2 separate regions of the Homo sapiens genome follow, and region 1 is linked to region 2. Evidence: fine-mapped expression QTL. A gene starts in region 2. The other region holds a variant in brackets. All regions are shown on one strand. Distances are between the middles of the regions.

Region 1 (2,907 bases), 57 kb after region 2:
GCATTCAGTTAACCATTCATGGGATCTTTTCTTTTATCCGATTCTCCGCTCCTTAAGGACATGGGCTGTGTCTTGTTTGTCCCTGTATCCCAAGCCCTGAGCACTATGTCTGGTGCTTAGGGTGCTCAATATTTATTTTCTTTTTCTTTTCTTTTCTTTTTTTTTTTTTTTTTGAGATGGAGTCTCGGTCTGTTGCCCAGGCGGGTGTGCAGTGGTGCGATCTCGGCTCACTGCAACCTCCACCTCCCAGGTTTAAGTGATTCTCCTGCCTCAGCCTCCCGAGTAGCTGGGATCACAGGTGTGTGCCACCATGCCCGGCTAATTTTTGTATTTTTAATAGAGACGGGGTTTTGCCCTGTTAGCCAGGCTGGTCTCGACCTCCTGACATCAAGTGATCCGCCCGCCTGGGCCTCCCAAAGTGCTGGGATTACAGGCGTGAGCCACCATGCCCGGCCTCAATATTTATTTTCAATATTCCACAGATGAGGGCAATAAGGAGAGGAAGCGGAAGAAAAAGGATGAGACATGTGGCTTGTGGGCAGAAAGGGAGGCAGGAGAACATTCCCAGTCTGCCTTTCACTGAGTTTTTACCTGTTCACTAGAACAACAAAAGGGAACCCGATCGGGAAACTCTGCTGTCAACTAAGCAAACTCTAAATTTAACATTTGGGGGACCCCCTTGGAGAGTAGTTGAGAGCTATGTGCTCCCCTTTTCAGAAAAATGCTCTCAAATACTCAGTGCATAAGCCCACAGCCTTAGCAGGTTCCCAGACCTTAGGTCAGCAATCCTGTTCTAAGGCATACATCACGAGCAGCATTTTGATTTTCATCTGGGGAACTTATAGTTCATAAAGACCTACTGATCCATTAAAATTTCCACTTGATTTTGCCATTAGTAATCTCTTAAACAAGTCCAAGGAAGCCAGAGGAAGTTATTTCTTGAATGCTTTTATACTAGTGCTTTCAAGAGTTCGTGTTGCTGACTCCAGTTTTTAAAATTATTATTCTCATCTTCTGCAATGCCTCGAGGCATGTTTTTAGCTGAATAGCAATAATTATGGGATTGTGCAATACTGGAAGAAGCAGTAAAAATAAAATGTAATACTAAAAAAAAAAAAAGTCTTTACTTCATCTAGGAAATTCAGTTTAAAGAATTTTTACCTCCGGACATAACAGTGACTATGCTGGAACTCTGTCTTTGACTCAAGCCAGAAGATGGATGGGACCACCCTTAGGAGCCTTCCACAGGAAGGCCCTCTCCACAGTAGGACTTAGGGCGCTCATGTAGATCCCTCGGCAGTAATGCGCTAGTTGCTCCTATAGTCAGGAGGCATCTAGGGAGATCGCTGATCTCCATGGCAACCTGGACCCAAATGAGCAAAGTGCCATCAGCTGGCCTCGGCCTGACTGCTCTGGCGGGAGGGAGGAAGCTGATGCTGTCTCCCACCCAGGCCGTGTAGCCATTTCCCCCACCCCCACCGGAGGTCTGAGAGTGTCAGGGCTTCTGCCCTTGGCTTCAGCCAGTTCTCCTGGAGGTCATTAAAGGGAAGCCCTTCTGGTGGCAAGTTCTCTGCCACAATCTACAGTGAGAATCTAATGATGGTATCAGTTGTAGAGGCCCCTTGATCTCTGGAGAGGGTTCTTAGTGCCAAGGAACTTTCTAGAACCATGGAGGAACCCTGCAGGGACCTCTGAAGAGTCCTGAGCAAAGAAGTGGGGAAAGCTGTGTGGGTGTGCACCAGGGTCTCATCACCCTGCCCTCAAGGGCAGCCTCAGTATTATG[A/C]CTTAAGGACTTGGGGGTTTACATAACATCCCTTTTTGTCAGCAAAGGAAGTTCCTTATTTCTAAACCTCATGGTCCCAGAAAACCCAGTTCCTGATCTAGCTGTCCCGTTAGGGCATTTCCATAATACAGCACGTTCTTAAGCAGACATTAAGTCAGACAATTAGGTCCCAGCTAAGCCTTGTCTTGACCTCTTAAGCAACATATCTGCCCTCCCTTTTGCCTTCTCTCTTTTCCTTCTCTGTCACAGACACAAGGACTAGATGAGAATGACACCCTGGGGCTATCTGATATACTTCCTCAAGAAGTATTAGTAACACAAACAACAACAGAAAAAACAAAGTGAAATTTATTTATCATGAAGCACTTTATTTTATTTAGTTATTTTTTTTTTTTTTGAGATGGAGTTTCGCTCTTGTTACCCAGGCTGGAGTGCAATGGTGTGATCTCGGCTCACTGCAACCTCTGCCTCCCGGGTTCAAGCAATTTTCCTGCCTCAGCCTCCCGAGTAGCTGGGATTACAGGCATGCGCCACCACGCCCAGCTAATTTTGTATTTTTAGTAGAGACAGGGTTTCTCCATGTTGGTCAGGCTGGTCTCGAACTCCCGACCTCAGGTGATCTGCCTGCCTTGGCCTCCCAAAGTGCTGGGATTACAGGCGTAAGCCACTGCAGCCAGAAGCACTTTAAAGCTTATCGTTAAGAACAAATATGCAGTCATGCAAGAGCACACTGTTAACAAATTACCGGCTAACTAAAAGCTAGGCGAGTTCCATATCAATATGATTAAACAATTGCATGGGAAAATTATTATTTAGAGGAATGGAAGTAGTCACTAGTACGTGTTGTCAGTAGCTTCTGTTTTATTCCTAAAAAGACGAATGAGAAAATGAGGTATTATGAAGGAAGAAGCAAGAGTAAATGCCACCATGGTAATTACTGCCCGGGGCATATGAAGAACTGTTTTTTTGTATTCTAATCTCCGTCACCGAAACTCATCAGTGATGCAGGACCCAAAAATAGAAGGACATTTTGGGTGGACATGTAGTTAATAATGACTTATGCAGCCCAGCACCTGTGTGGGCTGGCATTGTTCTAAGTGCTTTTTCCTGTGTTACCTCATTTA
Region 2 (2,907 bases):
AAGAGCGAAAACCCGTCTCAAAAAAAAAAAAAAGACTAGGATTTGACATAAGGCCTGAGGGGTATTCTTTTGTTTTGTTTTGCCTTGTTTTCAAGAGGCCAAAATCTTCACAGTTGAAAATTTCTGTTGAACCACAGAGATTTGAACCAACTCAGTTTAGAAAGCCTGGGGATTTGAACAACGGTATGGATCGGAAATCTCTTCATCTGTCAGTTTTCATCATTCTAGGCAGTAAAATAGATTTCCCTTTAGGAGCTTTTCACCGTTTGGGGTTCTCCAGCAGTGGGATGTGGGGAATCAACCCTTCTTCGTCTCCACCCAAACATTAGGTGGGAGCAAGGGGTGGGAAGTAGAGAAAGTGGATAGAGGTCTCCAGTGGATATGGGATCTTTGTGTAGACCAGCACAGTCCTCAGAAATCTCATGCAAGCAACATAGGTACTGTTATATTTTCTAGTGGCCACCTTTTAAAAAGTAAACAGGTGAGGCCGGGCGCGGTGGCTCACGCCTGTAATCCCAGCACTTTGGGAGGCCCAGGCGGGCGGATCACGAGGTCAAGAGATGGAGACCATCCTGGTCGACACGGTGAAACCCCGTCTCTACTAAAAATACAAAAATTAGCTGGGCATGGTGACGCGCGACTGTAGTCCTAGCTACTGGGGAGGCCGAGGCAGGAGAATCACTTGAACCCTGGAGGTGGAGGTTGCCACGCTCCACTACACTCCAGCCTGGCGACAGAGTGAGACTCCGTCTCAAAAAAAAGAAAGTAAACAGGTGAAATTAATTTTAATAATATATTTTGTTTAACCCAACGTATCCAAAATACTATCATTTGAAAGTGTAATGAATATAAAAATATTCATGAGATATTTTTCATTCTCATATCCATACTGTCTTGGACTCTAATGTGTATTTTACACTTACAGCACAATTAATTTGGGACTAGCTACATTTCAGCTCAACAATAGCCAATAGCATATGGGATAGCGCAAATAAACTCTGCGTCTCTGTTGCTTCTTTGGGTCTCGGAGACCTCAACCCTTTCTTCAGATTGCAAACCTTCTTGCCTTCAAGCCTCGGCTCCAACACCAGTCCGGCAGAGGAACCCAGTCTAATGAGGTACGCTCCCTTCCTGCCATTCTCTATTCCATTAACCTGTTTCGTGGTAAACGTAGGACTGATCCTCCAAAATTACCTTATTAATTAGCTTACATATTTATTATCTATCTGTCCCACCAGAATGCAGGTTTCCGGAAGGCAGGGATTTAAAAAAATCTGTTTTGTTCTATGTGATTTTCCCATACCAAGCACCGTGCCCGGCACAAGCTGGGATCCCAGTACACATCTCGGGACGGAAGAACCGTGTTTCCCTAGAACCCAGTCAGAGGGCAGCTTAGCAATGTGTCACAGGTGGGGCGCCCGCGTTCCGGGCGGACGCACTGGCTCCCCGGCCGGCGTGGGTGTGGGGCGAGTGGGTGTGTGCGGGGTGTGCGCGGTAGAGCGCGCCAGCGAGCCCGGAGCGCGGAGCTGGGAGGAGCAGCGAGCGCCGCGCAGAACCCGCAGCGCCGGCCTGGCAGGGCAGCTCGGAGGTGGGTGGGCCGCGCCGCCAGCCCGCTTGCAGGGTCCCCATTGGCCGCCTGCCGGCCGCCCTCCGCCCAAAAGGCGGCAAGGAGCCGAGAGGCTGCTTCGGAGTGTGAGGAGGACAGCCGGACCGAGCCAACGCCGGGGACTTTGTTCCCTCCGCGGAGGGGACTCGGCAACTCGCAGCGGCAGGGTCTGGGGCCGGCGCCTGGGAGGGATCTGCGCCCCCCACTCACTCCCTAGCTGTGTTCCCGCCGCCGCCCCGGCTAGTCTCCGGCGCTGGCGCCTATGGTCGGCCTCCGACAGCGCTCCGGAGGGACCGGGGGAGCTCCCAGGCGCCCGGGTGAGTAGCCAGGCGCGGCTCCCCGGTCCCCCCGACCCCCGGCGCCAGCTTTTGCTTTCCCAGCCAGGGCGCGGTGGGGTTTGTCCGGGCAGTGCCTCGAGCAACTGGGAAGGCCAAGGCGGAGGGAAACTTGGCTTCGGGGAGAAGTGCGATCGCAGCCGGGAGGCTTCCCCAGCCCCGCGGGCCGGGTGAGAACAGGTGGCGCCGGCCCGACCAGGCGCTTTGTGTCGGGGCGCGAGGATCTGGAGCGAACTGCTGCGCCTCGGTGGGCCGCTCCCTTCCCTCCCTTGCTCCCCCGGGCGGCCGCACGCCGGGTCGGCCGGGTAACGGAGAGGGAGTCGCCAGGAATGTGGCTCTGGGGACTGCCTCGCTCGGGGAAGGGGAGAGGGTGGCCACGGTGTTAGGAGAGGCGCGGGAGCCGAGAGGTGGCGCGGGGGTGCCACCGTTGCCGCAGGCTGGAGAGAGATTGCTCCCAGTGAGGCGCGTACCGTCTGGGCGAGGGCTTCATTCTTCCGCGGCGTCCCTGGAGGTGGGAAAGCTGGGTGGGCATGTGTGCAGAGAAAGGGGAGGCGGGGAGGCCAGTCACTTCCGGAGCCGGTTCTGATCCCAACAGACCGCCCAGCGTTTGGGGACGCCGACCTCGGGGTGCCGTGGTGCCCGGCCCCACGCGCGCGCGGGGCTGAGGGGTCGGGGGCGTCCCTGGCCGCCCAGCTTTAACAAAGGGTGCTCCTCTCCACCCCGCGAGGAGGGGCAGCTCCGGAGACCCGGTCTTCAGCGAGCGGGGTCTTAGCGCCGGGGAGGTCTACTTCCTTTTGGGGTTGCCATTTTACTATTATTATTGCCTTTTTTTTTTCTTCAAAAGGACTGGAGACTGATGCATGAGGGGGCTACGGAGGCGCAGGAGCGGTGGTGATGGTCTGGGAAGCGGAGCTGAAGTGCCCTGGGCTTTGGTGAGGCGTGACAGTTTATCATGACCGTGTTCAG

What was found.
Region 1: its variant is fine-mapped to the expression of DAPK1 in whole blood (TOPMed, PIP 0.98).

The regions. Positions count from the first base shown.
Region 1 is chr9:87,553,341-87,556,247 of GRCh38, forward strand. All of the region lies in intron 2 of DAPK1 (death associated protein kinase 1), which reads left to right. DAPK1-IT1 (DAPK1 intronic transcript 1) reads left to right here and starts at 114. Exons shown (of 2, transcript NR_146781.1): 1 at 114-250; 2 at 555-1,119. RefSeq lists an enhancer at 2,494-2,663. The variant A/C (reference allele first, on the strand shown) is at 1,784.
Region 2 is chr9:87,496,185-87,499,091 of GRCh38, forward strand. It overlaps DAPK1 (death associated protein kinase 1), which reads left to right and starts at 1,683. Exons shown (of 26, transcript NM_004938.4): 1 at 1,683-1,923; 2 at 2,786-2,907. The coding sequence starts at 2,894. RefSeq lists silencers at 1,332-1,391, 1,412-1,761, 2,132-2,321, 2,532-2,641 and an enhancer at 2,032-2,789.